Homo sapiens: one gene and its partner. The protein of the gene in region 2 purifies or fractionates together with the protein of the main gene of each other region. This does not show direct contact. Each region holds a gene or a part of one and is shown on either strand. Other genes may lie near its edges.

Evidence for each region.
Region 1: the proteins of CA5B (region 2) and DBT purify together in Homo sapiens (affinity purification with mass spectrometry; 2 studies listed by BioGRID and IntAct, with this or other methods). This does not show direct contact.

What each region holds. Positions count from the first base shown.
Region 1 is NC_000001.11:100,198,651-100,214,904, forward strand, and holds part of DBT (lipoamide acyltransferase component of branched-chain alpha-keto acid dehydrogenase complex, mitochondrial isoform 1 precursor), read right to left. Parts: coding exon 16,167-16,254; intron 15,301-16,166; exon of another isoform or gene 14,573-15,300; intron 12,475-14,572; exon of another isoform or gene 12,390-12,474; intron 12,122-12,389; coding exon 12,044-12,121; exon of another isoform or gene 12,043-12,043; intron 7,987-12,042; coding exon 7,795-7,986; intron 7,652-7,794; coding exon 7,580-7,651; intron 2,152-7,579; exon of another isoform or gene 1,993-2,151; intron 1-1,992. UniProt on the Homo sapiens protein: The branched-chain alpha-keto dehydrogenase complex catalyzes the overall conversion of alpha-keto acids to acyl-CoA and CO(2).
Region 2 is NC_000023.11:15,728,885-15,745,576, reverse strand, and holds the start of CA5B (carbonic anhydrase 5B, mitochondrial precursor), read right to left. Parts: upstream 7,308-16,692; 5' UTR 7,225-7,307; intron 1-7,224. UniProt on the Homo sapiens protein: Mitochondrial carbonic anhydrase that catalyzes the reversible conversion of carbon dioxide to bicarbonate/HCO3.

The DNA of each region.
Region 1 (16,254 bases), on a different chromosome or scaffold from region 2:
GGAAAAGAGAATGAGTGATAGAGAGAAGTTATAACTCAGAGAACTGATTTGGAAATAGTGACATACTGTGTCTTTTTGTTTTTTCTCCCTATCTCCTCTGCTTGCCAGAAGGGAAAGTGGATGCCAGGAAGGGGGAATGACTTAGATGCTAATTTACTATCTGCTAGAAAGCAAATCAAAGGCTGAAGGAAAGAATTTGTGAGGGTTCCAACACGCAAGGAATAAACTCATGAGGACAAGTCCCAGAGATGTTCAACATGGAAGCATTATAAGTGTAGAAAAGAAAGGCTCTTCTTAAAACACACTCTTCTTAATGTAGTGACAATGACATTTAATAAACATGGTATTGAAGTGGTATCCAGGAGCTTATTTGCCTCAGTGGTCCTCAACCCTGAATTAATAGGGGGTACCCAAGTCCCATCCCCCAAAATTCCAATTCAGCTGGTAGAGGGGGAGCTTGGCCATAATTTTTTTCAAGCTCCCGTATGATTCTAACATGTAGCCAGGGTGAAGAATCACTGCAACCCTTATTCTAAGTCAGTGTCTTCTAAACCATGGTCACCGATCACCTTTTTGCACTCATTTGGGTTCCTGTTCAAAATTTAAGTTCGGAGGGTTCTGCCCCTAAGGTAAAGAAATCTGCGCTTTTAACTAACACTCCCAGTGATTCCTGAGCAAAGAATGCTCTAAATGAGTCTCACTTTGTTTAAAATAACATTTTCAATTGGTTTTCTATTATTCTTTGGTATAATGAAATAAAGATATTTTGATAGAAGTAGATTGGCTATATTTGTGATTATTCATTAAGACTCAATATCTGTGCCTGGCATAATCCACAATGGTTGATCCATACAGAAACAACCCAGATCGCCACCATTTATTACACACAGAGGCAGCCACCAGAAGTGCCGGCCTAGCTCTTAGGAAGAAGTAATAGGTTTTTGGATTCCCAGGCAAGATGGCAGAACAGGAACAGCTCCGGTCTGCAGCTCCCAGTGAGACCAAGGCAGAAGGCAGGTGATTTCTGCATTTCCAACTGAGGTACCCGGTTCATCTCATTGGGACTGGTTAGACAGTGGGTGCAGCCCATGGAGGGCCAGCAGAAGCAGGATGGGGCGTCGCCTCACCTGGGAGGCGCAAGGGGTCAGGGAACTCCCTCCCCTAGCCAAGGGAAGCCATGAGGGACCGTGCTGTGAGGGATGGTGCTATCCAGCCCAGATACTATGCTTTTCCCATGGTCTTTGCATCCGACAGACCAGGATATTCCCTCGGATGCCTACTCCACAAGGGCCCTGAGTTTCAAGCACAAAACTGGGAGGCCGTTTGGGCAGACACCAAGCTAGCTGCAGTTTTGTTTTTTTTTTCATACCCCAGTGATGCCTGGAACACCAGTAAGACAGAACTGTGAGAGACACTCCCCTGGAAAGGAGGCTGAAGCCAAGGAGCCAAGTGGTCTTGCTCAGTGGATTCCAACCCCACGGAGCCCAGCAAGCTAAGATCCACTGGCTTGAAATTCTCGCTGCCAGCACAGCAGTCTGAAGTCGACCTGGGATGCTGGAGGTTGGTGGGGGGAGGGGTGTCAGCCATTACTGAGGCTTGAGTAGGCGGTCTTCCCCTCACAGTGTAAATAAAGCCACAGGGAAGTTCGAACTGGGCAGAGCCCACTGCAGCTCAGCAAAGCCACTGTATCCGGACTGCCTCTCTAGATTCCTCCTCTCTGGGCAGGCATCTCTGAAAGAAAGGCAGCAGCACCAGTCAGGGGCTTATAGATAAAACTCCCATCTCCCTGGGACAGAGCACCTGGGGGAAGGGGTGGCTGTGGGCGCAGCTTCAGCAGAATTAAACCTTCCTGCCTGCCGACTCTGAAAAGAGCAGTGGATCTCCCAGCATAGCGCTTGAGCTCTGCTAAGGGACAGACTGCCTCCTCAAGTGGGTCTCTGACCCCCATGCCTCCTGACGGGGAGACACCTCCCAGCAGGGAATGACAGACACCTCATACAGGAGAGCTCTCGCTGGCATCTGGCAGGTGCCCCTCTGGGATGAAGCTTCCAGAGGAAGAAGCAGGCAGCAATCTTTGCTGTTCTACAGCCTCCACTGGTGATACCCAGGCAAACAGGGTCTGGAATGGACCCCCAGCAAACTCCAGCAGACCTGCAGAAGAGGGGCCTGACTGTTAGAAGAAAAACTAACAAACAGAAAGGAATAGTATCAACATCAACAAAAAGGACGACCATGCAAAAACTCCATCCAAAGGTCACCAACAGCAAAGATCAAAGGTAGATAAATCCATAAAGATGAGGAAAAACCAGCATAAAAAGGCTGAAAATGCCAAAAACCAGGACGCCTCTTCTCCTCCAAAGGATCACAACTCCTCGCCAGCAAGGGAACAAAACTGGACAGAGAATGAGTTTGATGAACTGACACAAGTAGGCTTCAGGTAATAACAAACTCCTCCGAGCTAAAGGAGCATGTTCTAACCCAATGCAAGGAAGCTAGGAACCTTGATAAAAGGTTAGAGGAATTGCTAACTAGAATAACCAGTTTAGAGAAGAACATAAATGACCTGATGGAGGTGAAAAACACAGCATGAGAACTTCGTGAAGCATACACAAGTATCAATAGCTGAATCGATCAAGCGGAAGAAAGGATATCAGAGATTGAAGATCAACTTTATGAAATAAAGCATGAAGACAAGATTAGAGAAAAAAGAATGAGAAGGAAGGAACAAAGCCTCAAGAAATATGAGACTATGTGAAAAAGACCAAAACTACGTTTGATTGGTGTACCTGAAAATGACAGGGAGAATGGAAACAAGTTGGAAAACACACTTCAGGATACTATTCAGGAAAACTTCCCCGAACTAGCAAGATAGGCCAACATTCAAATTCAGGAAATACAGAAAACACCACAAAGATACTCCTCGAGAAGAGCAACCCCAAGATCCATAATTGTCAGATTCACCAAGGTTGAAATGAAGGAAAAAAATGTTAAGGGCAACCAGAGACAAAGGTCGGGTTACCCACAAAGGGAAGCCCATCAGACTAACAGTGGATCTCTCGGCAGAAACTCTACAAGCCAGAAGAGTGTGGGGGCCAATATTGAACACTCTTAAAGAAAAGAATTTTCACCCCAGAATTTCATATCCAGCTAAACTAAGCTTCATAAGTGGAGGAGAAATAAAATCCTTTAGAGACAAGCAAATGCTGACAGATTTTGTCACCACCAGGCCTGCCCTACAAGAGCTCCTGAAGGAAGCACTAAACATGGAAAGGAACAACTGGTAGCAGCCACTGCAAAAGCAACCCAAAATGTAAAGACCATCGACACTATGAAGAAACTGCATCAACTAACAGGCAAAATAACCAGCTGTCATCATAATGACAGGATCAAATTTGCATATAACAATATTAACTTCAAATGTAAATGGGCTAAATGCCTCAATTAAAAGACACAGATTGGCAAACTGGATAAAGAGTCAAGACCCATCAATGTGCTGTATTCAGGAGACCCATCTCATGTGCAAAGACACACATAGGCTCAAAATACAGGGATGGAGGAAGATTTACCAAGCAAGTGGAAAGCAAAAAAAAAGAAAAAGCAGGGGTTGCAATCCTAGTCTCTGATAAAACAGACTTTAAACCAACAAAGATAAAAAAAAGACAAGGGCATTACATAATGGTAAAGGGATCAATGCAACAAGAATAGCTAACTATCCTAAATATATATGCACCCAATACAGGAGCATCCAGATTCATAAAGCAAGTTCTTAGAGACTGGCAAAGAGACTTAGATTTCCACACAATAATAATGGGAGACTTTAACACCCCACTGTCAACATTAGACAGAACATTAGACATTAGACAGAACAATGAGACAGAAGATTAACAAGCATCTTCAGGACTTGAACTCAGCTCTGGACCAAGCGGACCTAATAGACATCGACAGAACTCTCCACCCCAAATCAACAGAATATACATTCTTCTCAGCACCACATAGCACTAATTCTAAAATCGTACACACAATTGGAAGTAAAACTCTCCTCAGCAAATGCAAAAGAATGGAAACAATAACAAGCAGTCTCTCAGACCACAGTGCAATCAAATTAGAACTCAGGGTTAAGAAACTCACTCAAAACCACACAACTACATGGAAACTAAATAACTTGCTCTTGAATGACTGCTGGGTAAATAATGAAATGAAGGCAGAAATAAAGATGTTCTTTGAAACCAATGAGAACAAAGACACAACGTACCAGAATCTCTGGAACACAGCTAAAGTATGTGTAGAGGGAAATTTATAGCACTATAAATTTCCCACAGAAATAAATGCCAACAGAAGAAAGCAGGAAAGATCTAAAATCAACACCCTAACATCACAGTTAAAAGAACTAGAGAAGCAAGAGCAAACACGTTCAAAAGCTAGCAGAAGACAAGAAATAAACAAGATCAGAGCAGAACTGAAGGAGACAGAGACACAAAAAAACCCTTCAAAAAAATCAATGAATCCAGGAGCCGGTTTTTTGAAAAGATTAACAAAATTGATGGACTGCTAGCTGGACTAATAAAGAAGAAAAGAGAGAAGAATCAAATAGACACAATAAAAAATGATAAAGGGGATATCACCACTGATCTCACAGAAATACAAACTACCATCAGAGAATCCTATAAACACCTCTTCACATATAAACTAGAAAATCTAGAAGAAATGGATAAATTGCTGGACGCATACACCCTCCCAAGACTAAATCAGGAAAAAGTCGACTCCCTGAATAGACCAATAACAAGTTCTGAAACTGAGGTAGTAATTAATAGCCTACCAACCAAACAAAGCCCAGGACCAGATAGATTAACAGCCAAATTCTACCAGAGGTACAAAGAGGAGCTGGTACCATTCCTTCTGAAACTATTCCAAACAACAGAAAAAAAGGGAATCCTCCCTAACTCATTTTATGAGGCCAGCATCATCCTGATACCAAAACCTGGCAGAGACACACACACAAAAAGAAAATTTCAGGCCAATATCCCTGATGAACATCAATGCCAAAATCCTCAATAAAACACTGGCAAACCGAATCCAGCAGCATATTACAAAGCTTATCCATCACAATCAAGTCGGCTTCATCCCTAGGATGCAAGGCTGGTTCAACATGTGCAAATCAATAAACATAATCCATCACATGAACAGAACCAATGACAAAAACCACATGATTATCTCAATTGATGCAGAAAAGGCCTTGGATAAAATTTAACACCCCTTCATGCTAAAAACACTCAATAAATTAGGTATTGATGGAACATATCTCAAAATAATAAGAGCTATTTATGATAAACCCACAGCCAATATTATACTGAATGGGCAAAAGCTGGAAGCATTCCCTCTGAAAACTGGCACAAGACAAGGATGCCCTCTCTCTCACCACTCCTATTCAACATAGTATTGGAAGTTCTGGCCAGGGCAATCAGACAAGAGAAAGAAATAAAGCATATTCTATAGGAAGAGAGGAAGTCAAATTATCTCTGTCTGCAGATGACATGATTGTATATTTAGAAAACCCCATCGGCTCAGCCCAAAATCTCCTTAAGCTGATAAGCAACTTCAGCAAAGTCTCAGGATACAAAATCAATGTGCAAAAATCACAAGCATTCCTATACACCAATAACAGACAAACAGAGAGCCAAATCATGAGGAAACTCCCATTCACAATTGCTATAAAGAGAATAAAATACCTAGGAATCCAACTTACAAGGGATGTGAGGGACCTCTTCAAGGAGAATTACAAACCACTGCTCAAGGAAATACAAGGGGACACAAACAAATGGAAAAACATTCCATGCTCATGGATAGGAAGAATCAATATTGTGAAAATGGCCAAACTGCCCAAAGTAATTTATAGATTCAATGCTATTCCCATCAAGCTACCATTGACTTTCTTCACAGAATTAGAAAAAACTACTTTAAATTTTATATGGAACCAAAAAAAAAGCCCACATAGCCAAGATAATCCTAAACAAAAAGAAGGAAGCTGGAGGCATCATGCTACCTGACCTCAAACTATACTACAAGGCTACAGTAACCAAAACAGCATGGTAATGGTACCAAAACAGAGAGATAGACCAATGGAACCGCACAGGGGCCTCAGAAATAACACCACACATCTACAACCCATCTGATCTTTGACAAACCTGACAAAAACAAGCAATGCGGAAAGGATTCCCTATTTAATAAATGGTGTTGGGACAACTGGCTAGCCATATGCAGAAAACTGAAACTGGACCCCTTCCTTACACCTTATACAAAAATTAACTCAAGATGGATTAAAGACTGAAATGTAAGACCTAAAACCATAAAAACCCTAGAAGAAAACCTAGGCAATACCATTTAGGACATAGGCATAGGCAAAGACTTCATGACTAAATCACCAAAAGCAATTGCAACAAAGCCAAAATTGACAAATCAGATGTAATGAAACTAAAGAGCTTCTGCACAGCAAAAGAAACTATCATCAGAGAGAACAGGCAACCTACAGAATGGGAGAACATTTTTGCAATCTATCTATCTGACAAAGGGCTAATATCCAGAATCTACATGGAACTTAAACAAATTTACAAGAAAAAAACAAACAACCCATCATAAAGTGGGCGAAGGATATGAACAGACACTTTTCAAAAGAAGACATTTATATGGCCAACAAACATATGAAAAAAAGCCCATGATCACTGGTCATTAGAGAAATGCAAATCAAAACTACAATGAGATACCATGCCAGTTACAATGGCAATCATTAAAAAGGCAGGAAATAACAGATGCTGGAGAGAATATAGAGAGATAGAAACGCTTTTACACTGTTGGTGGGAGTGTAAATGAGTTCAACCATTGTGGAAGACAGTGTGGCGATTCCTCAAGGATCTAGAACCAGAAATACCATTTGACCCAGCAATCCCATTACTGAGTATATACCCAAAGGATTATAAATCATGCTACTATAAAGACACATGCACATGTATGTTTATTGCAGCACTATTCACAATAGCAAAGACTTGGAACCAACCCAAATGTCCATCAATGTTAGTTAGACTGGATAAAGAAAATGTGGCACATATACACCATGGAATACTATGCAGCCATAAAAAAGAGTGAGTTCATGTCCTTTGCAGGGTCATGGATGAAGCTGGAAACCAGAAAACCAAACACTGCATGTTCTCACTCATAAGTGGGAGTTGAAAAATGAGAACACATGGACAGAGGGTGGGGAACACCATACACTGGGGACCTGTCGTGGGGTCTGGGGCTAGGGGAGGAATATCACTAGAAGAAATACCTAATGTAGATGACGGGTTGATGGGTGCAGCAAACCACCATGGCAGGTGTATACTCATGTAACAAACCTGCACATTCTGCACATGTATCCCAGAACTTAAAGTTAAAAAAAAAAAAAAAAAAGAAATAATAGACTTTCTAAGATAAACTCAGAAACTTAAAACCTACAAAAGGAGGGGAAACCTTAGAAATGGTTACTCTTCATTGTGTTTAGTCCCTGAATTTGCTTAAACTCCATTTTTCAGTTATCTAATACATGTACCTTAATTGATCCAAGGGCCCCAATGGCTACTTCAGGTGGCATTATCACTGGTTTGGCAAAGGTACCACCAATCTATTTTTTAAAAAAAAAAAAAGGAGAGTATTAAAAGTTAAGATTTTTCAGGGAACAAATGCCAAGTGACTTTTCTATTTTTAATTAAGCATATGATCAGAAACCTTAAGTAATGGTTTATGTATTTCAACATTATTACTCACTGATCCAATGTTGGAAAGAGTAAATGTTCCTCCTGTAAGATCAGTGGTGCTGAGCTGACTCACAGAGCCCAATTTCTGGAGGCGGTTCAGTTCAGTGGCGATGTCAAATATAGAGCAGATCTGAACATTTTTCACATTAGGGACAATCAAACCCTGCTCAGTATCCATTGCTATCCCAATGTTATGAGAAGCCTAAAAAATAAAAAATTGTACAGTAGGGCTTTTAATGAATAAGCTAACAGCAAAGAAAGGATCAACCTTCACTGCCATCTAGAAACCACTACCAAAACTCATTTTTACCAGATTGGTAGTGATTTAAAAGAAATAATTTAAAAATAATTTTTAAAAGATTTTTTGGGCTAGGCGCAGTGGCTCATGCCTGTAATCCCAGCACTCTGGGAGGCCAAGGTGGCTGGATTACCTGAGGTCATGAGTTCAAGACCAGCCTGGCCAACATAGTGAAACCCCATCTTTACTAAAAATACAAAAATTAGCATGGTGGCACAGGCCTGTGATCCCAGCTACTCGGGAGGCTGAGGCACGAGAATCGCTTGAACCTGGGAGGTGGAGGTTGCAGTGGGCCGAGATTGTGCCACTGCACTCCAGCCTGGGAGACAGAGTGAGACTCTGTCCAAAAAAAGATGATAATTTTTTATTGATAAGAATGTAGGCAATAGGCTATTTCCCAACATCGTTAGTGGGAATGTAACTGGTACAGGTTGAGCATCCCTAGTCCAAATATCTGAAATCTGAAATGCTCCAACATCTGAAACTTCTGGGGGCTGAAATGACGTCATGTGATGTAGCCAATTTCCTTGAAAACTGATTTATCACCCTGAGTCAAGATCCATCTTCAGAATTCTGTATACTGACAAATATAGAAATGTAAAGATTTTATTTTCAATTTATTGGATGGATTAAGCACCTCAGCATTCCTTACTATGTGATAAAATACATATATAATAAAAAGTATATTCAATATTTTGTCCTTAAACATTATGCTGCATAGTTGTTGAAACAGTTCTCATTTTATAATATTTAATCATATCAGAGCCCATCAATAAAAAAAAAAGAGAAAAATGCAGCCATTGTTCTGGCAGGGCATAGTGGCTCATGCCTATAATCCCAACACTTTGGGAGACTGACACAGAAGGATTGCTTGAGGCCAGGAGTTTGAGACCAGCCTGGGCAACATAGCAAGACTCCATCTCTACAAAAAAATTTTTTTTAATTAGCTACAAAAATTTTTTTTTAAATTATGGCACATGCCTATAGTCTCAGCTACTTGGGAGGCTGAGGTGGGAGGATCATTTGACCTCAAGAGTTTTAGGTTACAATAAGCTATGATTATGCATGGGTGACAGAGCAAAACTCTGTGTCAAAAAAAGAAAAAAAAAAAACTTTGTGGCCGGGCACAGTGGCTCACGCCTGTAATCCCGGCACTTTGGGAGGCCGAGGCGGGCGGATCACGAGGTCAGGAGATGGAGACCATCCTGGCTAACACAGTGAAACCCCATCTGTACGAAAAATACAAAAAGAAATTAGCCAGGCGTAGTGGCAGCCTCCTGCAGTACCACCTACTCAGGAGGCTGAAGCAGGAGAATGGCATGAACCCAGGAGGCAGAGTTTGCAGTGAGCCGAGATCGCAGCACTGCACTCCAGCCTGGGCCACAGAGCAAGACTCTGTCTCCAAAACAAAAACAAAAAAAAACAAATCCAACTTTGTTTCATGCACAAAAATGTTAAAAATATTGTATAAAATTACCTTTAGGCTATGTGTATGAGGGGTAAATGAAACATAAGTGAATTTCATGTTTGCACTTGAGTCCTGTCCTCAAGATATCTCCTTTGTATATGCAAATATTCCATAATCCAAAAAAATCTTAAATCCAAAAACGCTTCTGGTCCCAAGCATTTCAGGTAACGGATACTTAAACTGTAGAGACTTTCTGGAGAACATATGACAACATGAACCAACATTTATAAAAATTCGTGTTAAGGAACTAAGTGCAGAAGTATGTAGGGATACACAGGGATGTTGAGTACACACTGTTTATAAGTTTGAGAAACTGCAAATAATCATGATGTTTATAAATAGGTCACTGGCTAAATAAATAACAAAGCTATACTTGTTGACAATGATGTCTACAATATAGTAAATGAAAATGAAGAGGCTGGGCACAGTGGCTCATGCCTGTAACCCAGCACTTTGGGAGGCTGAGGTGGGTGGATCACTTGAGCCCAGGAGTTAGAGACCAGCCTGGGCAACATGGCAAGACCCCATTTCTACAAAAAAAAAAAAAAAGTACAAAAATTAGCTGGGCATGGTGGCACGTGCCTATAGTCCCAGCTACTCAGAAGGCTGCGGTGGGAGGTGGACACTGCAGTGAGGCGATGATTACACCACAGCATAGATATTCTCTATGGGGAATACTTTAGATAGGCAACAGAGCAAGACTCTGTATCAAAAAAAAAAAAAAAAGAAAAAGAAAAAAGCAAGTTAAAGAAAATATAAATAATTCTATATCTTGTAAAAAGTATGTAAAAATGAAATCCTAGAAAGATGTATATCTCAACATAAACAGTGAGCTATCTTAGGGTCATGGAATTGAGGGTAAACATCTTTGTTTTCTTTTTTCTTTTCTTTTCTTTTCTTTTTTTTTTTTTGACAAAGGCAGGGTTTCACTTTGTCACCTAGGCTGGAGTGCAGTGGCATGATCACAACTCACTGCAACCTCCATCTCCCAGGTATCATATGATTCTCCTGCCTCAGCCTCCCAAGCAGCTAAAACTATAGGCATGCACCACCATGCCTGGCTAATTTTTTTTTTCTGTAGAGATGGGGCCTCCTAACTTTGTTGCCCATGCTGGTCTTGAATTCCTAGGCTCAAGCCATCCTCCTACCTCTGTCCCCCAAAGTGCTGGGATTACAGGCAGGAGCCACCACACCCGGCCAACATCATTTTCTTGCCTGAAATTTTTTTAATAAGTATATACTTAATCAGGAGATATTAAAATTAAAATTAATACAGCTGACTGTATTAACCGTATGGGAGCTGACCTCCCAGAATATCTAAGCTCACTTTCTGGTTGTACATGTCTTTTCTTTTTTTTCTTTTTTTAATTCTCTTTTTGAAATGGAGTTTTGCTCTTGTCGCCCACGCTGGAGTGCAGTGGCACAATCTTGGCTCACTGCAACCTCCGCCTCCTGGGTTCAAGCAATTCTCCCACCTCAGCCTCCTGAGTAGTTGGGACTATAGGCGCTGGCCACCACGGCTGGCTAATTTTTGTATTTTTAGTAGAGACAGGGTTTCACCATGTTGGCCAGGCTGGTCTCAAACTCCTGACCTCACATGATCCACCCGCCTCAGCCTCCCAAAGTGCTGGGATTATAGGCGTGAGCCACCGTGCCCAGCCTCTGGTTGTGCACTTCTAATGATAAGTAAACTTCAGGAAAGGCATCTCAAAAAGAGTTTTCGGTCTTAAGAAACTTTCACTACTCACAGAAGAGTTTACTCAAATTGAATTCAAACTTTTATTATTTTTCTCACTTAAATTATTCTTAATATTAAAATTCCAGGAATTTGCCAGGCACAGTGGTTCATGCCTGTAATCCCAGCACTTTGGGAGGCTGAGGCAGGAGGATTGCTTAGACCAGAAGTTCAAGACCAGCCTGGGCAACATAATGAGACCACGTCTCTACAAAAAATTTAAAAATTAGTTGGGCATAGTGGCGCATGCCTATAGTCCCAGCTACACAGGAGGCTGGGGCAGAAGGATTGCTTGGGCCTGAGAGGTTGAGGCTGCAGTGAGCCACAATCACAACACTGCATTCCAAACTGGTGACAGAGTGAGACTCTGCCAATAATAATAATAATAATAAGAAGAAGAAGAAGAAGAAGAATAAGAATAATAATATTAAAATTCCAGGAATTCAATTTTGAAAGAGCTGCTTCTTTTTGAGAGGGTAAGTAGAGTGGGTAACATAATCTGCCATACAGCTATGTATTTCCATTATTTTAAGCAGGAAAAAAAAAAGCTTAAAAATAGTTTTAAGAATCTCTAAACAGTATTATTAACACAAAAACAACAACAATGAATTAGACTTAAGTTTAATGTTTTACCCCATACCTTTAATTCTAGTCTAAAAAAGATCACTATTTGAGGTACAATAGAAGTCTCTAATCTACAAGCACATTTGCCCCATCTTCTATTAATAATAAGAACATTTTTACTCTGCATAGCCAACCTTATATGTTATATTCTGGCAGTTTTCATCCACAGAAGCGTTAAGGATAGGAAACTGTAGTAATCCCAAGGAAGCAGCCTGTTTAACAGAAAAAGAATGCAATTTTAGTACTTTTAACTTAGAAAGGATAGAGAATTTGAAACAATAAGAGGTATAAAAGGAGGGAGAGAGAGAACTCTTATTTATGCTGAGTTTAATTTCAAGTCTACATGTACCTAGTCACATTACTGCCAATGTTACCTTCAGGCCATGTGGAACTAGGTCACCCTAATCATTAAAGAATAAAAGATAAAGTAGTCAGGTAGCTTGTAAACATCAAGGAGATTTTCAAAATAATGATACAGACCAGCCAAAGTTCCAAAGAAAATGTCTAAATTCTAGGTGATTTCCTCACTGACATGTTGATCTTAAGATTTCCATGAGAAGTAATACTAGGAATCAAAACACAAAAAAAGCAGGTAAGCTATTTCTCTGTGTGGAAAGAACACGTAACGAGGATTTCAAAGCGCACTGACCAGTAGATGCCAGTTTGCTACTTGGTGTCCTTGGCCAGCTGAAGGGCAGAGATGTCCTGAACATTTACTTTACAGCTCAAGTCTCACTGAATAGCATTTATATTTTCCCTCTCTGCTGCCTTCTCCCTTTTGTCACTTAATACCATTTCTCTCCTGTCCATATTCAGATTTCCCTAACTGTACCCAAAATGTTCTTGATAATCTGTTTTTGGGATCTAATAATCAAGTTTCATACCTTACATGTGGTGGCCATGCATTGTATTGAATTTAAAAGATAGCAAAATAAAAATGCTTAAGATCATTCTTAAAAAGAATTCCCTCCCCCACTGCCCTTGTCTGGTCCCTGTTAAAGTTCTTTACATGCATTGTGTTATTCTTCTCAGTGCATCGGGGTCTTGATGGGAAAAAAATCAAATTCTTGAACTAGAGAGTTAAGAAAAAAGTTTAAATATATAGAGACATTTCATTTTCATTAGTTAGGACAGGTTAAGAGAGTAGATCAACTGAAGAAAAATATAATTAAAAGAACTGCTACGAGTTCCTTAATTTTTATGACTTGGAAGTTTTTCTTGTTTGTTTTTGAGACAGGGTCTTTCTTTGTCACCTAGGCTGCAGTGCAGTGGCATGATCTCAGCTCACTGTAGCCTCAACGTCCTTGGCTCGAGTGACCCTCCTGCCTCAGCCTCCCGAGTAGCTGGAACTATAGGCGTGTGCCACCATGCCCAGGTAACTTTTGTATTTTTTGTAGAGATGGGGTTTCACCATGTTGCCCAGGCTGGTCTTGAACTCCTGAGCTCAAGCAATCTGCCTGCCTTGGCCTCCTAAAGTGTTGGGATTACAGTCGTGAGACACTGCGCCCAGCCAACTTGAAAGTTTTAGTAAGCATTTGATTCAATAACTGTAATTTTAATAGTCTTTATCTAAAAACCCCTAAGGTTAGTCTAAACTGTTACATATAAAAATATTTGAGTATAATCCAAATTTTGTCCAAGAAAATACAAGGTATGTGTCAATGGATTAGGTCATTTGTTCCCCCTCTACAATACTGTGTAGTATTTTTTCGAATGTTCTGAAACTTATGTTTTATTTTAAAACAAAATAGCCAGGCATGCTGGCTCATCCCTGTAAGACCAGCCTGGGCAGCACTGCGAGACACATCTCTACTAAGAATAAAAAAAAATTAGCCAGGTGTGGTGGTGCACACCTGTGGTTCCAGCTTCTCGGGAGGCTGAGGCAGAGGATCACTTGAACCCAGGAGTTCAAGGTTGCAGTGAGCTGTGATTGTGCCACTGCACTCCAGCAGCCTGGGCAACAAAGTGAACCCTTTCTAAAAAAAAAAAGAAGAAAGAAAGAAAAAGGGAGATAAAGAAGAATAGTTTCTGCCTCATGAGGCTCAGCGCCCAGTAAGTGAGTAAGTGAAGAGAAAACTGAGTAAGCACTCAATGCACTGAGATAAGTTAACAGTGGGAAACAAAAGTATTTAATTCAAATAGTGACAGCCACAGAAGGAGTCTGTACCTGACCACAGTTTGGGATTTGCAGGTGTTTGATCGAGAAGAACGGGCACTTCAGGTGGAATTGTGTATTCCAGCAATTATGGGTACCTTAATATGAGGGAGTGAGGTAAGAATGGAGAGGCAGGCAGCAGAGACTTATAACACATTTGTATGCCACACTAAGGAGTATGGCATACAAATTATCCTGAAGGTAATGAAAGGGAACCACTGAAAAGAATCAGAGAATATTACAGTAATTTGATTTACGGAAGACCAGTCTTGGTGCAGTGTAGAGAAAGGACTGGACATGTTGGCATTACAGACATCAGTATGTCCTTCTGAGTAAAACAGACCAGAACCTGAAAGAGCTTCTCCACCTGTTAGCTGTAAGTCCTTAACAAGTTTCTCAACCTCTCTGAGCCCCAATTTCCTTAAATGGAAAGTGGAGACAGTAATATTTACATGTCAGGGTTACTCTGAGAATTAAGAGATAATGGGCCCTGCCCCGCGTCTGCCTCAGAGGGGCCCGAGCCACCCGGGGCGTGCGCCGCGTCCCCGCCGGGGCCGACAGAGCCGAGCCGGGCCGCCATGGACCACAAGACTCTGCTGCAGGAGCGGCCGCCCGCCTACAACCTGGAGGCCGGCCAGGGCGACTACGCGTGAGGCCCGCACGGCTACGGCGCCATCCCCGCCGCGCCCCCGCAGCCGCCCTACTCCTACCTCGTCACACGGACACCCACCCACCATCCCAGGGTCTACAACATCCACAGCTGGACCGTCATCCGCTATCCTACCAACTCTATCGTGGTCGTGGGAGGCTGTCCCGTCTGCAGGGTCGGGGGGCTGCAGGACTGCTTCACCTTCCTGGGCATCTTCCTGGCCATCATCCTGTTCCCCTTTGGGTTCATTTGCTGTTTTGCCTTGAGGGAGCGAAGATGCCCCAACTGTGGAGCCACCTTCGCTTAAAGGGAACACCAGGCTCGGCCTTTCCTACACCCAGCTCTCTTTTTCTAATGTAAATGTTGTGTTCAATAGTTTTATTTGATTAAGCTTCAGGACTGTTTTGTAAAGCGAGGTGGGACCGATGTGGCACACGCCAGCTGCGGTTTCCCGGAGCGTGGAGAGGCAGCGCTGCTGCTCCTGCCCCAGGCTCATGACAACTCAATGAAGCACTGCTTTTATTTTTTGCAGTCTTCAATTTGAGAAAGGTGAGAAATAATCTTTTCAATAAATGAGATTCATACCAAAAAAAAAAAAAAAAAAGAGAGAGATAATGTATACAGCATGCTTACTATGGAGGCTGGCACATGGTAGCTGCTGCACAGTCACTAATGTGAGCTAGACTGTATGCTGCTCAAGGTTAGCTGATGGTCTTACTCCATTTTATACTGGTCCCAAGGCTTAGCACTAGAAATGATTCCCAGGATCCTCAATATAAGTTGGTTGAGTAAATGAAAATAAATATTAAATATATGTCAGTGATATTGCAAAATTAATATCAAGTCTCATTTTAGTTCAAACCAAGACTTGGTTGGAGTGATCCTTTTAGGATCAGAGGCTTTACTTAACTGGCAGAATTGTCTCTACCTAGCTCAAAGATAAGCAGCTAAAAATATAGTACAGAAATCTCAATTTTATAATTTCCTATTGAACAAAGAAATGGCACATTTTCTAACTATCTGATGTTGCGAAAAGTAATATTTTTATTCAAGGCCACAGTCAACATATTGCATGTTGGCAAAGCAAAATTTAAATGTCCTACTTGGGGCCAGGTATGGTGGCTCACGCCTGGAATTCCAGCACTTTGGGAGGCTGGGGCGGGGGTGGATCACCTGAGGTCAGGAGTTCAAGACCAGCCTGACCAACATGGCGAAACCACGTGTCTACTAAAAATACAAAATTAGCCAGGCGTGGTGGCAGGTGCCTGTATTCCCAGCTACTCAGGAGGCTAAGGCAAGAGAATTGTTTAAACCCGGAAGGTGGAGGTTGCAGTGAGCCGAGATTGTGCCATTGCACTCCAGCCTGGGTGACAAGAGCAAAACTCTGTCTCAAAAAGACAAACAAACAAATAAATGTCCTACTCAAGCCTTGTTTGAAATGAATGAATCTCACCTTTAAGAAGAAAGGCATAAAGGAGAGTTTAATTCCACGAGCAAATGCAATGGGTTTTAATTCTTCTCGGAGCTTAACCAGTTCAGTA
Region 2 (16,692 bases):
TACAAAGAAAAACTATTTAAACAAATACTTCTTTTTTTGTTACCTTTTAAAAATTGTGATAAAACATATATAATAGTTATCATTTTAACCAGCTGTAAATGTACAAATTCAGTGGCATTAAATACATTCATAATGTTGTGCAACCATCACCACCATCTGCACCCAAAACTATTTCATCATCCCCAACATAAACTATGTACTCACTAAACAATAACTCCTCCTCTATCCCTTAGCCCCTGGCAATCTCGCTTTTACTTTGTCTCTGTGTATTTATTTGCCTATTCTAGATACCCCACGTAAGTGGGATCGTACGGTATTTGTCCTTCTGTGACTGGCTTATTTTACTTAGTATAATTAAACAGATTTTTCTTTTCTTTTCTTTTCTTTTCTTTTTTTTTTTTTTTTTTTGAGACAGAGTCACGCTCTGTCACCCAGGCTGGAGTGCAGTGGTGCGATCTCGGCTCACTGCAACCTCCGCCTCCCAGCTTCAAGCAATTCTCCTGCCTCAGCCTCCAGAGTAGCTGGGAATACAGGCACCCACCACCATGCCCGGCTAATTTCTGTATTTTTAGTAGAGACGGGGTTTCACCATGTTGGCCAGGCTGGTCTCGAACTCCTGACCTCAGGTGATCTGCCCACCTTGGCCCCTAAAGTGCTGGGATTACAGGCATGAGCCACCGTGCCTGGCCATAAACAGAAATTTCTTAATCAAAGCTGGACACAATGACGGCCTTGATTTAGTGCAATGGGAATATGTGGCGCAGGGGCTCTAAGTTTCAGGAAAGGGTGGCATCTGAAAAATGTATTGTAGGAGAGAGACAATTTAACAGGGAGGCAAAGGCAGAGGGATGGACAGGGGAACCTTCCGCGATGATGAGGAGGTGGCAGGGGATGATGAGGCCCCAATGCTGAAGAGAACAATTGGAGTCAAAATGGGAAGAACTTTAGGTTTACTCAATAAACAATTCCAGTATCAGGGGGATGTGGGCAAACAAGTGGAAAAGGCCTCCTTTCTTGCTCACAATCGAGTTAGAATGAGACATAGTAATTTTTGGGAAGATGATGGCAAGTACAATGCAAAGTCAACAGAAAGGATGTGTGGGCTCTGCCTTCAAAGGGAAGCTTGTGATAAGACAAGGCCAAGGGCATGGCCGCCAGCCAGGAGAGCTGTACAAACAGATGAGTGAACACACATGAGGCCAAGGCACAGGGCCCTGCACAAGAGGCTGTTGGTCGGGGGTGGGTCTGAGGCCTGTTAGCATGGCATTCAGAGACATCTGGGAAATGACCCTTGACTCTGCTCCACAGAGAGCCATCCGGAAAGCACTGAGGCATGGCAGGCTGGGGCTGACGGCCAGGGCCATGGTCATGCCTTGAGGACTGCCCTCCATTCTGCAATCACACTGTCTGCATGACACCAAGGCTGGAGGCCAATGACGCCTGGCCTAGAGGAAGTTTCTCCTGTACATCCAGACTGACTCTCTAGGGCTAGGGGGCAGGAGGGCTCCAGAGGGCCTGACTTCATCCTCACCTTCACCCTCTCAGTCATTCTCCTCCACACTCAGTGGTAGATTGCTTGTAGTGGTCCAAAAGTCTGGACCTCTATCTGTGCCCCAGAATGGTGCTGATCTCACTGTAGGGGACCCTGACTCTGAAGATTTTCTTTTTCTCCTTTAGACAAAACAAAAACAAAACCCCACAAACCTCAAACCTGTTTTTCTGAAAGAAAGCCAAGAGTATTTCTGAACTTCCCATCATTCCAAGTCTGCTATTAATATTTGTCAATGCACTGGCCAAGCAGATGCCCAGGGGATGCAGCAGGAGGTGGGGCTAGATGAGGATTTGAGATTAATTTGGGGAATATGAACTTCCAAGAGACTGGAAGCCTTTTGGATATTATTCCATGGGTACAGGAGAAAGCAGTGATGGTTTCTGATGACTCTGACAATGGAGTACGGGATGGATGGGAGTGAGTGGAGCCAGGAAAGTCAGTGAGGAGGTGATTCCTTTAACCAACCTTCATTCAGTCTATCACTCTTTTATTCTTTTTGTCATTAAGATATCAATTGAACATCTATTAAGTATGAAACATGGTTCTAGGTTCATTGGGGAACAGAACAAAGCCCTTACCCTTATGGAGCTCACATTTTAGTAGGGGATACAGGTAATAAACAACAAATGTAATAAACAAGTCAGTTGTAGAGACAATTTGAATATGTCTAGTAAAAAGTGGAGCAGGGTAAGATGAATTTGGAGTGCCACTTGAGAGAGGGTATTATATTTTTAAATATATTGTTCACAGGAGGCCTCGCTGAGAAGATAAAATTTGAGCAAAGGATTGGAGGAGGTAGGGAATTAGTTACATGGCTATCTAAAGGAAGGACATTTCAGGCGTGGGGAACTGCCTGGGCAAAGATCCTGAAGTGGGCGTATGTCTGGCATATTCAAGGGATAGTAAGGAGGCCAATATGGCAGGAGTAGAGTGAACCAGGAGGAAGGCAGTAGGAGATGAGGTTCACAGGTAATGGATGACAGATCAAGACTTCTGGGCTACTGCAAGGGTTCTTTCTCTAAGTTAGGGTTTCTCAGTCTTGGCACTGTTGACATTTTTGATCAGATGACTCTTGGTTGTGGGGGAATGCTGTGTGCATTGTAGGGTGTTTAGGAGCATCGGTACTGGCTAGCATCCAATAGATGCCAGTTCCACCCTATACCAGAGTTGTTACAACAAAAAATATCTACAGATATTGCCAGATGTCCCCTGCGGGAGGGGAATAGGGTTACCACAGGTTGAAAATCACTGCTCTAAGTAAAAAGGGGAGACAGTGGAGGTTTCCGAGCAGAGCAGTAACATTTTACATTTACATACAGTAATTTACATTTTTAAAAGATCACTCAGGCTGGGCGTGTTGCCTCATGCGTGTAATTCCAGCACTTCGGGAGGCCGAGGCGGGAGGAGAGGATCACTGGAGGTCAGGAGTTCGTGACCAGTCTGGCCAACATGGTGAAACCACGACTCTACTAAAAATACAAAAATTAGCCAGGTATGGTGATGCACGTCTGTAATCCCAGCTACTCGGGAGGCTGAGGCAGGAGAATTGCTTGAACCCAGGAGGTGGAGGTTGTAGTGAGCTGAGATTGCGCCACCGCACTCCAGCCTGGCATCAGAGTGACAGAGCGAGACTCCGTCTCAAAAAAAACCCAAAAAAACAGAAAAACATCACAGCATGTCCTGTTGAAAATTGCCTTGGGGAGTAGAAACAGGGAGGAACAGGAAAGAAGCAGGAAGTAGGAAAGAAGTAGGAAAACCCTTTAGGGATAATCCAAGGCTTGAACTAATCCAGAGATGTCACAGTGGAGGTGGTAAGAAGTGGTTGAATTTTGATATATCTTGAATATACAGCCCATAAGATGTGAAAGAAAGGAGTTAAGGATTACTGGAAGATTCTTGGTCTACACAACTGGAAAGATAAAGTTACCACAAACTGAGATAGGGGAGACAGTGGGAGAAACAGGTTTTGGGTGGGAAATAAGTAGCTCAGGTTTAAGCATGTGGAGTTTGAAGTGAAACTCCAATAATCTGAGTAAGAGAATATGAAGCACTGAACTGGGCAGTGACAGTATAGTTGGACAGGGTACTTGGTATTCAAAGATAGCCATTGTGATTTTTAAAATGTAGGGTCTGTCACTCAGTTAAAGGAGAATAAAAGGAAGAAGTGGAGGAAGATCTCATTTAATGGCTGGAGTGATGCTAGCAGTAAGACGAGGATGAATCCCTGTACAGAAAAATAGAATTTGTTAGGCCGGGCACAGTGGCTCACATCTGTAATCCCAGCACTTTGGGAGGCCGAGGCGGGTGGATCAAGAGGTCAGGAGTTCCAGACCAGCCTGGCCAAGATGGTGAAACCTCGTCTAGAGATTTTTGTCTAAAAATACAAAAATGAGCCAGGCGTGGTGGCGGGCGCCTGTACTCGGGAGGCTGAGGCAGAGAATTGCTTGAACCCAGGAGGCAGAGGTTGCAGTGAGCTGAGATCGTGCCACTGCACTCCAGCCTGGGCGACACAGCAAGACACTGTCTCAAAAAAAAACAAACAAACAAAATCCCCCACAAACCTGTCATGAGAAACAGGGAAGGGAAAGATGATGGCAGGTCATACCTCTAATCAAATGGGATTTTTTTTTTTTTTTTTTTTTGAGACAGGGTCTCCGGGTCAGGTGCAGAGGCTCACGCCTGTAATCCCAGCACTTTAGGAGGCCGAGGAGGGTGGATCACTTGATGGCAGGAGTCCCAGACCAGCCTGGCCAACATAGCAAAACCCCATCTCCACTAAAAGTACAAAAATTAGCCGTGCATGGTGGTGCAAGCCTATAAGCCCAGCTACTCGGGAGGCTGAGGCAGGAGAATCACTTGAACCCAGGAGGCGGAGGTTGCAGTGAGCCGAGATTGTGCCGCTGCACTCCAGCCTAGGTGACAGGGCGAGACTCCGTCTCAAAAAAAAAAGAAAAAGAAAAACAGAACGAGATGGGGTCTCTGTCACCCACGCTGGAGTGCAGTGGCACGATCTTGGCTCACTGTACCCTCCGCCTCCCACGCTCAAGTGATTATCCCACCTCAGCCTCCCAAGTAGCTGGGACCACAGGCGTACCACCACGTCCAGCTAATTTTTGTATTTTTGGTAGAGACGGGGTTTCGCCATGTTGTCCAGGCTGGTCTCGAACTCCTGGCCTCAAACGATCCACCCGCCTCAGCCTCCCAAAGTGCTGGGATTACAGGCGTACAGGCGTGAGCCATGGCGCCCAGCCCTCTAATCATATTGGATTTAAGGTGTCAATGGGATAGCTGAGAGGAAAGGTCTAGGAGAGAGTTGGCAACACAGCTCTGGTGCTCAGGAGCAGTCAGGAAGCTACAGATAGAAAGAGAATCCCCTCCTCCCAGCAGTTACAGGTATATCAAGGGAGACTCACAAAAAGGAGCCATGAAGGATGCTGAGACTGAGAACGGTCAAAGGCAATCAAGGAAGGCGCAGAGCTTGGAAGATCCAGGTGAGGAGGTTCCAGGAAAATCCAAGTAAACAGAAATTCAATTTAGCTAATGCTTGATTGCAATACCTATAACAATACATGAGGTTATTTTTGTTCAGGCCTAAGGTCTATCCTCTCTGTTAAATTAGAAGTTATAGTTTTTTAAGAGTTGGTTATTTAAACTTACTCACTGCATTCATAAAACCCAAGTTTGTGAAACCAAAAATAATGTTTAACCAGCAAACACAGCACATATCAACTAATACCATACATTACTGTATTTCAGGGAGAATCTGTCCGTACATAAGTTTGTCCATAAAGATGGGTCCCTGGGCTCGATGGACTACAGGGGAGCTTTCTGTGTTATATACTCTTTGCCATCACTGATGATTTATGTATATCCTTGGATTTTGCTAACCTGCCCCTTAGCTGTTTTCCAGACTTAGAAATGCGTGGAAACAAAGATTTTGAAAGCCCTCAATGAGTCATTCATAAATCTTGTATTTATTAAATGACAAGCAGCTTGAACTCTGCCTGATTAAGCCATTCATATGTAGGCAAAACAGACAGAAAAAAAAGAATGTACTCTGACTAAAGGTTACAATTACATTGGAAAAAAATTCCTTCATTTTCAACAGATGGACCCTTCCTTTGATCACCACCTGATTTCAAAAGGCAACAAGCCTTTTTGCAATTCCCTGAAATCTAAATTAGAGATTATGCTGCGATATCTTGACTGAGAAAGCTCAGCTTCCCCCTCTCACCCACTTCTTCCCTGGGAGCATGATCCCAATGTGTGGTAGCCAAAGGTTTCAGAATATGTTTCTAATAACTGCTCTTTGTGCTGCAATTAATTGCCCAGTGCCACCAATCAGATGAAATGCATTTTCCCCTTTCCGTCAAATTTCCCAAATATTCATATTCATTCATTCACTCACAATTCACTCAACCTTTACTGCGTTCCAATTGTGAGTGGTTGCAGCTTTTTGCCTGGCTCCAGGGAGAAGAGGGCAGGTGTGTACAGGCACAGAGAACGGTGCCCTTGCTGCTTTTGGCATTTCAGTGAATTCCAACCCTGATGCTGAGGTTAAAAAAAAAAAAAAACCTCAGTAAAAAATATTCCTAGAAAGCTTTACGGTTTTCCACTTCCAACATACCCAAGAAGAGTGGCCACTCCTGAGAGATGTGCAGGGACAATTCAAGGGTATGCTCTGGGGCAGCTTCTCTCACCACAGAAATAGCACTACTTGTCTCCATACTCTAGCAAGACTTTTAAACAGCAGAGTGATGGCCAGATTATCAGTAAAGGAAGAATGGGAAGCAGAAAGCAACGCGGTTTTCAGTGGCTAGGAGAGAACAAGTTCTTTTCAAACTAAGTTGTACACATCAACTCCCCTTATCTCTCAAACTTTCCCAGCGAAAATACACAGGAGGGAAGGGCACTGACATCAATATTAACCAATTGCCACAAGCCTCGGGGCAGAAGCATTTAACATTGAATGCCACAAGAATCACGAAAACCAACAAGGTTTGTATTTGGAGGTTCCTCTCCTTCAGCTTTAGGGCTGAGCACAAAACAAAAAGGCCAGAAGAAAGAACTGCAGGGTGAAGAAAGCTCAGATTTGCCCGCATGGCACAGTTGTGATGCTGATACCCTGTCTTGGGGGTGAGTGGCTGTGAGTCTCTCCACAGCCCCTAGCATAGTGGGTGGTGCGGATACAATGCAGATCTGAGGGAGTTCCAGTTTACTGAGCCTCGGTTTCTGGAACCGCAACCTCAGATTTGTCGCCCTTACCCCCGTCTCTAGCTATTTCACAGAAGGCTGGACTTTCTGGAGTTATTTGGATTCAACCAACCTTGGCAACCCTACCTACCAAGGAACTGCTCTCCCGCGCCCCCACCCCCTTTTCTCTGGAACAGCTGTTATCGCGTCCTGTGCAAAGAACCTTAAAGGATGACAGCCGTTTGGTAACTCCCATAGTGGAGGAAGAGGGCTGGGGTGGGGGAGTTCGACACCCCATTAGGCCCCACTCAGTACTCCCGGGCGCCCTGCCGGGACCCAGACAATACTCGCAGGATCAACAGCTCTCCTAGCTCCGGAACCCGGTGCGCCAGAGCGGAGAGTCGTGGGAAGAATCACGGCCCTGTCTGGATCGGCCTGTCCCTGGTCGCCCCCCACTCCTCTCGGCCACCCGTCCTTACCTGAGCGTCTCTCCAGATCACGAACCTAGCCGCTCGCTCGCCTACGGGGATCCGCAGCCTGCACGTCCGGCCATCGAAGCTACGCCCCCTCGTGCCCTGTTACGCCCCACATACCAGGGCCACGCCCCTCAATGGAGGCCACGCCCCCACCTGGCAGATCCACGCCCCACTACGTCCGTACTTATTGCCCCGGTCACGCCCAACCAAACTGTGCCAGTCTCTGCCCTCCACCCTGGCCACACCCCTTTAGCTACAGCCACGCCCCTCTCGCCCGGGCCACGCCCCCATTCACCCCTGCTCCCTCCTAGCCCCGCCTCTGCGCTCCCCCTGGGCTCTTCCCTCTAGCCTGGGCCACGCCTCTGAGCCCTGCTCTGGCCCCGCCCCCGCCGGACCAATCCTCCCTCCTCCTGCTCGCCGCTGGCCGCATTAGTGGATTGAAACTAGACCTGGGGCTTCAGAGCCTTATCTAAAAAGTGACTTTCCCTCGGTTCCTCCCATCTCCAAACACCACGACTTTATGTGCTGGGAACAGGTGACTCAGTAGGGAAACAAACACTGAACGTGTCCTTTCCCGCTAGTTTTCATGTCCAATTTACCCGAGTTTCTTTGAGCCAGTTTTTATGTCCTCTGAACTCGAACTGTGGACCCGTGTTCCTTCCAGCCCAATTTTCATATCCTCTAAAGCAGAACTGTGGATGTGTTCCTTCTAGCCTCTTAGCCGACCTTAAATACTAGGCAGATGAGTGGAAAAAACAGAATTCCTCTACTTCCTGATGTCTCCTTCAGATGGGCTTTCCTAAGCACCCAGTGCCCCGTTGCTGCTGAGGGCGTGTGAAGACATCACCCCCACTTTGTGCTTTGAGATTACTCTGCTATCCTTCTTCCCTCAATTTACAACTCTGGGTCCACGTGAAAAATATGAAGAAGCTATAACCAGCTTTCTTCCCCTGTGTACATAAATCTCTGACTCATTCATGCAAATTTCATTTATTGAGTACATGCTCCCCTGACAAACAAGACAAGCCTCAAGAAGCTTACAGTCTGAAGTTGCCCCAACTTGGGTTTGGATGAGAAAATTGGGGAAGATGTGGCAAAAGGTTAATAGGTGGAAAAGGAGTTGGTAATCTCAGGTCATTAGTAGGAATATTTGGGGGTAGTAAACATAGGAAGCCACTTTTATAGTATTTAGTACATTTCTTTACACAATAAATTATCAAAAAATCTTCACTGAATATCTACTCTTCCACATGTATAGAAATATATAATTTCCCCCCTTTGTAGAAGTAAAATTTGCTACTTATATTGCTTCATATGCCAACAATAAAGATTTTACTATCACACAGTTCTTTTTTCTTCTCCTCCCTTGCATTTCTGGCTTGAAGACAGTGAGAATATTCAAAATGTTGGGCTAGAAGGAACACAGAGAAAAGAACAACTTTCAACAGAACACTTTCATTATGCTCGCCCTGACCCTGAGAACTCTGCCTCATTTATAAAATGTTTCAACTGTCAGTCATTTTTTGCCTGAAAAATGAATTCACAGAAATTGGTCCAAATACAGTCTATATAAATTACTGAGTTTATTTTTATACAAGTAGTTCTACTTCACCTTCTTCCACAAATGATTTGAGGCAGCGTCCTAAAATATAGACATTAGTAGATTTAAAAATAGGGGAAGGAACCAGTGAAAGGAGAGCTTAATGGAAGGAGAATGATGTGGCCAATGATAAGATTAACATTTAAGTTTGCACTCCATCAGATCCAGAACAGTTGTCAGAAGTAGGCCAGAAATTTGACCCTAACTAAGCTGTTGAATAGCCATAGAAAAGAGGAAATAGCAATCATTTTTAGGTTTTTACTGTTCATAAGATAAAAACTGGCTTTTTTTCTTTTCCCTTTTTTTTTTTTTTTTTTTTGAGACAGAGTTTTGCACTTGTTGCCCAGGCTGGAGTGCAATGGCGCGATCTCAGCTCACTGCAACCTTCGGCCCTCAGGTTCAAGCGATTCTCCTGCCTCAGCCTCCTGAGTAGCTGGAATTACAGGCATGCACCATCATGCCCGGCTAATTTTGTATTTTTAGTAGAGATGGGGTTTCTCCATGTTGGTCAGGCTGGTCTTGAACTCCCGACCTCAGGTGATCCACCCGCCTCGGCCTCCCAAAGTGCTGGGATTACAGGTGTGAGCCACTGCACCCGGCCTTTTTTTTTTTTTTTTTTTTTTTAATGGAATTTCACTCTTGTTGCCCAGGCTGGAGTGCAATGGCATGATCTCGGCTCACTGCAACCTCTGCCTCCCGGGTTCAAGTGATTCTCCTGCCTCAGCCTCCCAAATAGCTGGGATTACAGGCGCCCGCCACCATGCCCAGCTAATTTTTGTATTTTTAGTAGAGACGGGGTTTCACCATGCTGGCCAGGCTGGTCTCGAACTCCTGGCCTCAGGTGATCCACTTGCCTCAGCCTCCCAAAGTGCTGGGATTACAGGCGGGAGCCACCGTGCCCGGCTGTTTTGTTTTTATAGAAGCAGTTTTTCTTGAATTTTAGTCCTGAGAGAAATACAGTTTCCTCATAAAGATGATGTAGTGAGCCTAGTGGGAACTATGTGTCATAAGGAGTGACACCCAAATCCCCTCAATGGAAACTGTTGGCACAATCACAAAGCACAGTGCATTAAATCAATTCTATGAATTGGCCAGGCATAGTGGCTCAGGCCTGTAATCCCAGTAGTTTGGGAGGCTGAGGCAGGAGGATTGCATGAGCCCACGAGTTAGAGACCGGCCTGGACAACATGGTGAAGCCCCATCTCTACAAAATTAGCTGAGTGTGGTGATGTATGCTTGTAGTCCCAGCTACTTGGGAGGCTGAAGTGAGAGGATCATCTGAGCCTAGGGAGGCTGAGGCTGCAGTGAGCCGTGATCACACCACGGCATTACAGCCTGGGCAACAGACTGAGACCCTGTATCAAAAAAAAAAAAAATTCCATGAACCATCAACATATTTCTGTTCACTTGAATACACAAGCCCTCAATGGTCTGGCTTAATCCAGGGTAGCATTTAGATCATCTTTCCCCAGGATGGCAAATAGGTTTCAACTCACATGTTAACTCTGAACTATTTGTAGTAGCTGCCTGAATAACTATGTTGAGAAGTTTGGGGGCTTTGTCCAGGCTCAGAAAGAAAAAGTTCTGTACTCAGTTAACAATGCTGTGGGTGCAGGATAGGTAAGTGGCTGCATGCAATAACCTACCTGGTACCTCTGCTTTGTAGAAATAGAGGTCTTGCATGCAGAACTTTGTGCAGTCACTCAAAATCAACAATTCTCGTGGCCAGGCGCAGCAGCTCATGCCTGTAATCCCAGCACTTTGGGAGGCTGAGGCGGGCAGATCACCTGAGGTCAGGAGTTTGAGACCAGCCTGACCAACCTGGAGAAACCCCATCTCTACGAAAAATAGAAGATTATCCAGGCATGGTGGCACATGCCTGTAATCCCAGCTACTAGGGAGGCTGAGGCAGGAGAATTGCTTGAACCTGGGAGGCAGAGGTTGCAGTGAGCCGAGATTGCACCATTGCACTCCCGGCTGGGCAACAACAGCGAAACTCCGTCTCAAAAATAAATAAATAAATAAATAATTTCTCACCACAGGGTTTTTGATAAATACCAGAGTGTAGAGAGTTCCAGGTCCCTTTCTCACTCTGATCCACCTATACTGGTCTTCCCATGTTCATTCCTGTCTCTGAACATTTTCTTTTGTTGTTCCCATTGTTTGGACCACTCTTTACTCGGATCTTTACATGGCTGGAGTTTTCTCATTATTCAGTACTTAGCTAAAATGTCACCTCTTTAGATATGTTTTTCCTGACAACCATATCTGAAGTTGTATCCAGAGCCTCTCAATCTGCACTGTGCCCAGAGATCACCCGAAGATCATGTTACAATGCAGACTCTGATGCAGTGGTTCCGCGATGTGACTTGAGATTCTAGATTTCAAGCATGCTGCCAGGAGATGCAATCCTGAGGTTCTATAAGACACTCTGAGGCTGGCACGGTGGCTCATGCCTATAATCCCAGCACTTTGGGAGACCGAGGCAGGCAGATCACCTGAGGTCAGGAGTTCGAGACTGGCCTGGCCAACATGGCGAAACACTGTCTCTACTAAAAATACAAAAATTAGCTAGGCGCGGTGGTGGGCACCTGTAATCTCAGCTACTCAGGAAGATGAGGCAGGAGAATCACTTGAACCCAGGAGGCGGAGGTTGCAGTGAGCCGAGATCACGCCATTGCACTCCAGCCTGGGTGAGAGCGAGACTTCGTCTCAAAACAAAACAAAACAAAACAAAACAAAAAGACACTTTGAGTAACAGCTTCACCTCTCCATCTCTATTACCTATTTTATTTTCTTCATAGTGTTTCTCAGTATTTGAAATTATTTGATTATTTGTTGGTTGGTTGTTTACTATAATGTAAATTCCCTAAGAGCAGGGACTCTGACCAATTTGCCCAACTTTGTACTCCTGGCAGTTAACACAGTACCTGGGGCATCAGCAAATACCCTTTAAATATTGCTAAATGAATAATTTTATGATTCATTAATTCCTTTATCTGTTCAGTGACTGCTTAGTTATATGCCAGGAACTAAACTATAAATGATAGAAGGCAGTGCTACTCAAGTGCTAGCCTATGAACTGCTAGGTACTCTGGTTCAAGCTGAGATAAGCTTGAACTAGAATGTAAAATCTGATATGTCATTAAACACAGTGGTTATTTAGGATGTCATATTTTTTCTTTTTTCTTTTTTTTTTTTTTTTTGAGACAGAGTTTCACTCTTGTTGCCCAGGCTGGTATGCAATGGCTGATCTCGGCTCACTGCAACCTCCACCTCCCAGGTTCAAGTGATTCTCCTGCCTCAGCCTCCTGAGTAGCTGGGATTACAGGCATGCAACACCATGCCCAGCTAATTTTTTGTATTTTTAGTAGAGACGGGGTTTCACCATGTTGGTCAGGCTGGTCTTGAACAGCTGACCTCAGGTGATCCACCCACCTGGGCCTCCCAAAGTGCTGGAATTACAGACATGAGCCACCGCACCTGGCCAGGATGCCATATTTTTTCATAGCCAGGCTTTCTTGATCTGATTAGTAGGATATTTCTGGGCAGCAAACACAGGAAGCCACATTTATAGTACTTACTACAGTCTTTTACACAATAAATCTTCACTGTTTGTATGCCCTTTTTACTTGTGTATAGAGCTACACTTTTTCCCTCTCATAGCAGCAAGATTTGCTACACATAATTCTTCATCTACCAGCAATAAATATTTCACTTTTATTTTTTTAAACAGTAAAGATTTTAGAATCACATATTAGTTCCCTTCTTTTCCCACCTTCTGTTCTATTTCTGCCTTGAAGACAGTGGGAACATTCACAAAGTTGAGCTAGAAGGAGCACAGAGAAAAGAACAATTTTTCAACAAAACATTTTTATTAAGTTCACCCTGACCCTGAGAATTCTGCCTCATGTATAGAAAATGTTTCAAATGTAAGACATTTCTTGCCTGAAAACAGAAACAAAAATTGGGACCAAATATGGTTTGTATTAAGTTACTGTGTTCATTTTTATGTAGTTAGCAACAGCTCATCTTCTTCCACAAATGATTTGAGGCAGTTTCAAAATTAAAGACAATATTGGATAAAAGAAATAGCTGAAGGAACCACGGAAAGGGAAGTTTAAAGGAAAGAGAATAATGCAGCCAATGATAAAATAAACAAGTCACCAAGCCTGAACTTTTTCCTTCTTAGCACAGAGGAAAATGTCCTTGCTAAAGGTGGGCCAGAGATTTGGCTCTAAGCTTCTGAATGCCCATAGCAAGAGAGAATCACCATCATTTTAAGGTTTTCCAGTGTTAATAATATATATAATTGAGACAGAGTCTCGCTCTGTCGCCCAGGCTGGAGTGCAGTGGCATCATCTTGGCTCACTGCAACCTCCTCCTCCTGGGTTCGAGAGATTGTCGAGCCTCAGCCACCTGAGTAGCTGGGACTACAGGCACACGCCACCATGCCTGGCTAATTTTTTTTTCTTTTAGTAGAGATGGGGTTTTACCATGCTGGCCAGGCTAGTTCTTGAACTCCTGACCTCAGGTAATCCATCCACCTCAGCCTCCCAAAGTGCTAGGATTATAAGGTGTGAGCCACTGCACCCAGCCCAGTGTTCATAAACTAAAAGCCAGAGTTTTGTTTGCTTGTTTGATTGATTTTGAGAACTACAGTTTTTCTTGATTTTCAATGCCAAAAGAAACCCTGAATCCTCAGAAAGATAAGGTTGTGAGCTAAGTGGGAAATAAGTGTCCTAAAGAATTACACAGTTTCCTTCAATGTAAGCTATTGTTACAATCACAAAGCACAGTCCATTAAGTCAATTCTATGACTATACAAACCTTCCTGTTCAACTCCATAGACTGTACACACGTTGGGAATTGTTGGGAGAAAAGCTGAGTGTTGGGAGAAGCTGATGCAGGGCTTGCATGTCTGACATAATGTAAAAGAGTCTTGGACCATGTCCGGGGTCCATGGTCTAAAACCCCTTGTGGCCTCTGGAACACCAAGCTCTGTGCTAAAGGGTGGAAGGCTACCCTGCTGCACCATAATCTAAGCCTAGGGCATAAAACCCCTCCTGCTTAGATAGAATCCAGGGCTCAGGGCATAAAACCCCTCATGGCCCTGGAATGTGTCTAGACTTGCTGGCTCCTTGCTCTCCTAGGAGCGATTGTATCTTGAGTTAAAAGAACCTGCTCTCCGTTATCTCAAGTAGCAGAGCATATGCTAAACCATCACAGCTGTAAATCATGTGCTTAATGCAACGCTCCTTTTCAACCCCACATTCTCACCACCTGTTTCTTTGTTTGATCACCAATAAATAGTCTGGGCTTCCAGAGCTCGGGGCCTTCACAGCCTCCATACTTAGTGATGGCCCCCTGGTCCCACTTTCTCTCTCAAACTGTCTTTTCTCATTCCTTTGAGTCCGACGGACTTCATCTCCCCCAAGACCTGGTGTTGGGTCCAATCACCCCAACAGGGAATGGTCTGGATTAATCCATGGTAGCATTTAGGTTATTATTCCCCAGCATGGCAAGTAGGTTTCAATTTGCATGTCAACTCTGATCCATTCATATTAGCTGCCTAAATAAACTGTGTTGTGAAGTTCTGTGGCTGAGTCCATGCTCAGAAGGAAAATGTTCTGTGACTGATTAACAATGTTTATCGTGGGTACAAGATGCGTGAGTGGCTACCTACAACAACCTATGTGACATATTTGATTTGTAGGAATGGAGACCTTGCATGCAGGTCTTTTACAGTCCTACCAAAACAACATTTCTCATTACAGCACACTTGATAACTATCACTTGGTAGAGAATTCAAGGTCATTTTCACGGGCCAAAACCTAAGGGCAGAAATGTTGAGGTGTTGATTAATTTATACGCTTTGTATACCAACCAGGAGGAACTTAGTTTAAGGTTCTGTTATGAAAATGAGAGCATCTAAACAAAGTGGCACGTGATCTAATGCCCCCTCTACCTCGTTCTTTCTTTCTTTTTTTGTTTTTTTGAGACAGTCTTGCTCTGTCACTCAGGCTGGAGTGCAATGGCACGATCTCAGCTCACTGCAACCTCCACCTCCCGGGTTCAAGCAATTCTGCTTCAGCCTTCCAAGTAGCTGGGATTTCAGGCGTGTGTCACCACGCCCAGCTAATTTTTTGTATTTTTAGTAGAGATGGGGTTTCACCATGTTGGCCAGGCTGGTCTCCAACTCCTGACCTCAGGTAATCTGCCCGCCTCAGTCTCCCAAAGTGCTGGGATTACAGATGTGAGCCACCGCACCCAGCCTCCTCTACCTCTATCTCTTTGTAAAGTATGGATGGACAAGGCTGAACACTTTAGGGTAAACTCCAACCAGGCAGCCAAATAAGTGATTAAAGACTGAAAATCCTAACTCCATGCATGGCTGCATGAGTTTTTAGCCCAGAAAAATAAGCATTATGTGCCAAGACCATGGAAAACTTTCAATATAACACCAAGAAGCAGTGTAAATAATTGAGTATCTAGGAGAAAATATCAGAAGAGTCAATACAGTCTTGCTTTGACTACATGGGACTCATTATTCCTTATTGGGAATCATTCACAGAATGAGACACAAAAAGACAGATGCTCATGCATTCCATTTAAGAAACTGTCCTTTAAATTTCCACTTTATAAATATGTTGGCAAAATGACACTCACTCAGTTTCTCTGAGTTAATTTTTATTTCCAAACAGTAGTAATTAATATTCTCTGAAGTAAAAAAAATTAGCCTGTGAAAAATAAGTCAAAGTTCATAACAGTTATGGCTGTTAATTAACCTACAAAATTTGGTGAGCCTTTTGAATATGCTAGTTTCATAAGATTTTCTCATCTTAAAATAGGGCATTCCAACCTGAGCAATGTGGCAAAACCTCATCTCTACAAATAATAAAAAAATTGGCCAGGCATGGTGGCGCATGTCTGTAGTCCCCGCTACTCAAGAGGCTGAGGTGGGAGGCTCGCTTGAGCCCAGGAGGCAGAGGTTTCAGTGACCCAAGATGGCGCCGCTGCACTCAGTCTGGGTGATAGAGTGGGACCTTGTCTCAAAAAAAAAAAAAAAAAAAAGACATAAAATATCAGGATGAAGACAAAAACATTCCAGGATTCTTTGTTTATGATCGATTCTGGAAGTTGGGTTTTTGTTTGGTTTTCTTTGTTGTTGTCGCTTTTAATCCTAAGCTAGGAATGAGAAAAAAAAATCAAATATACCTCAAGACACTTCATTTCCAACAGTTTTGGGCTTCTTAGAACTTCAGTTTATGATGAAGACTAGTCAATTCAGTTATATTCGACAATCAAATAATCATGGGCTATGAAAAATGCAAAAATGAACCAAATATAGTCCCTGTCCTCCAGGAACTTACAATTTGCAGGACACAAAAGTAAATCATGTCAGCAATAGATGCATGTACAAATGTGAACAAAATGCTATGGGAGCACAGGACAAGGAAAGGATGAAGTTACTAGATGTGACAAGTCACTTATAAAGCTATAACTAAAGCAAAAGCAAAGAAAGGTTTCTCAAAGGAGGTGATAATCAGGATAGACCTGGAAAAATGGCAGGAAGTTTAAAGGTAAAAAACGAAAGCCCACAGGATTCAAGTTAAGGCAATCTCCTGAAAACAAACATAAAGGACAGAAGTGGGACACGGTGACTCTGACTCGCAGAGACTTGCTTATTACCTGGGTGACAAAATAATCTGTATACCAAACCCCCACGACACACAATGTAACTATATAATAAACCTGCTCATATACCTCTGAACCTAAAATATCATTAAAATGGCCATACTGCCCAAAGCTATTTACAGATTCAATGCTATTCCTATCAAACTATCAATGACACTCTTCACAGAACTAGA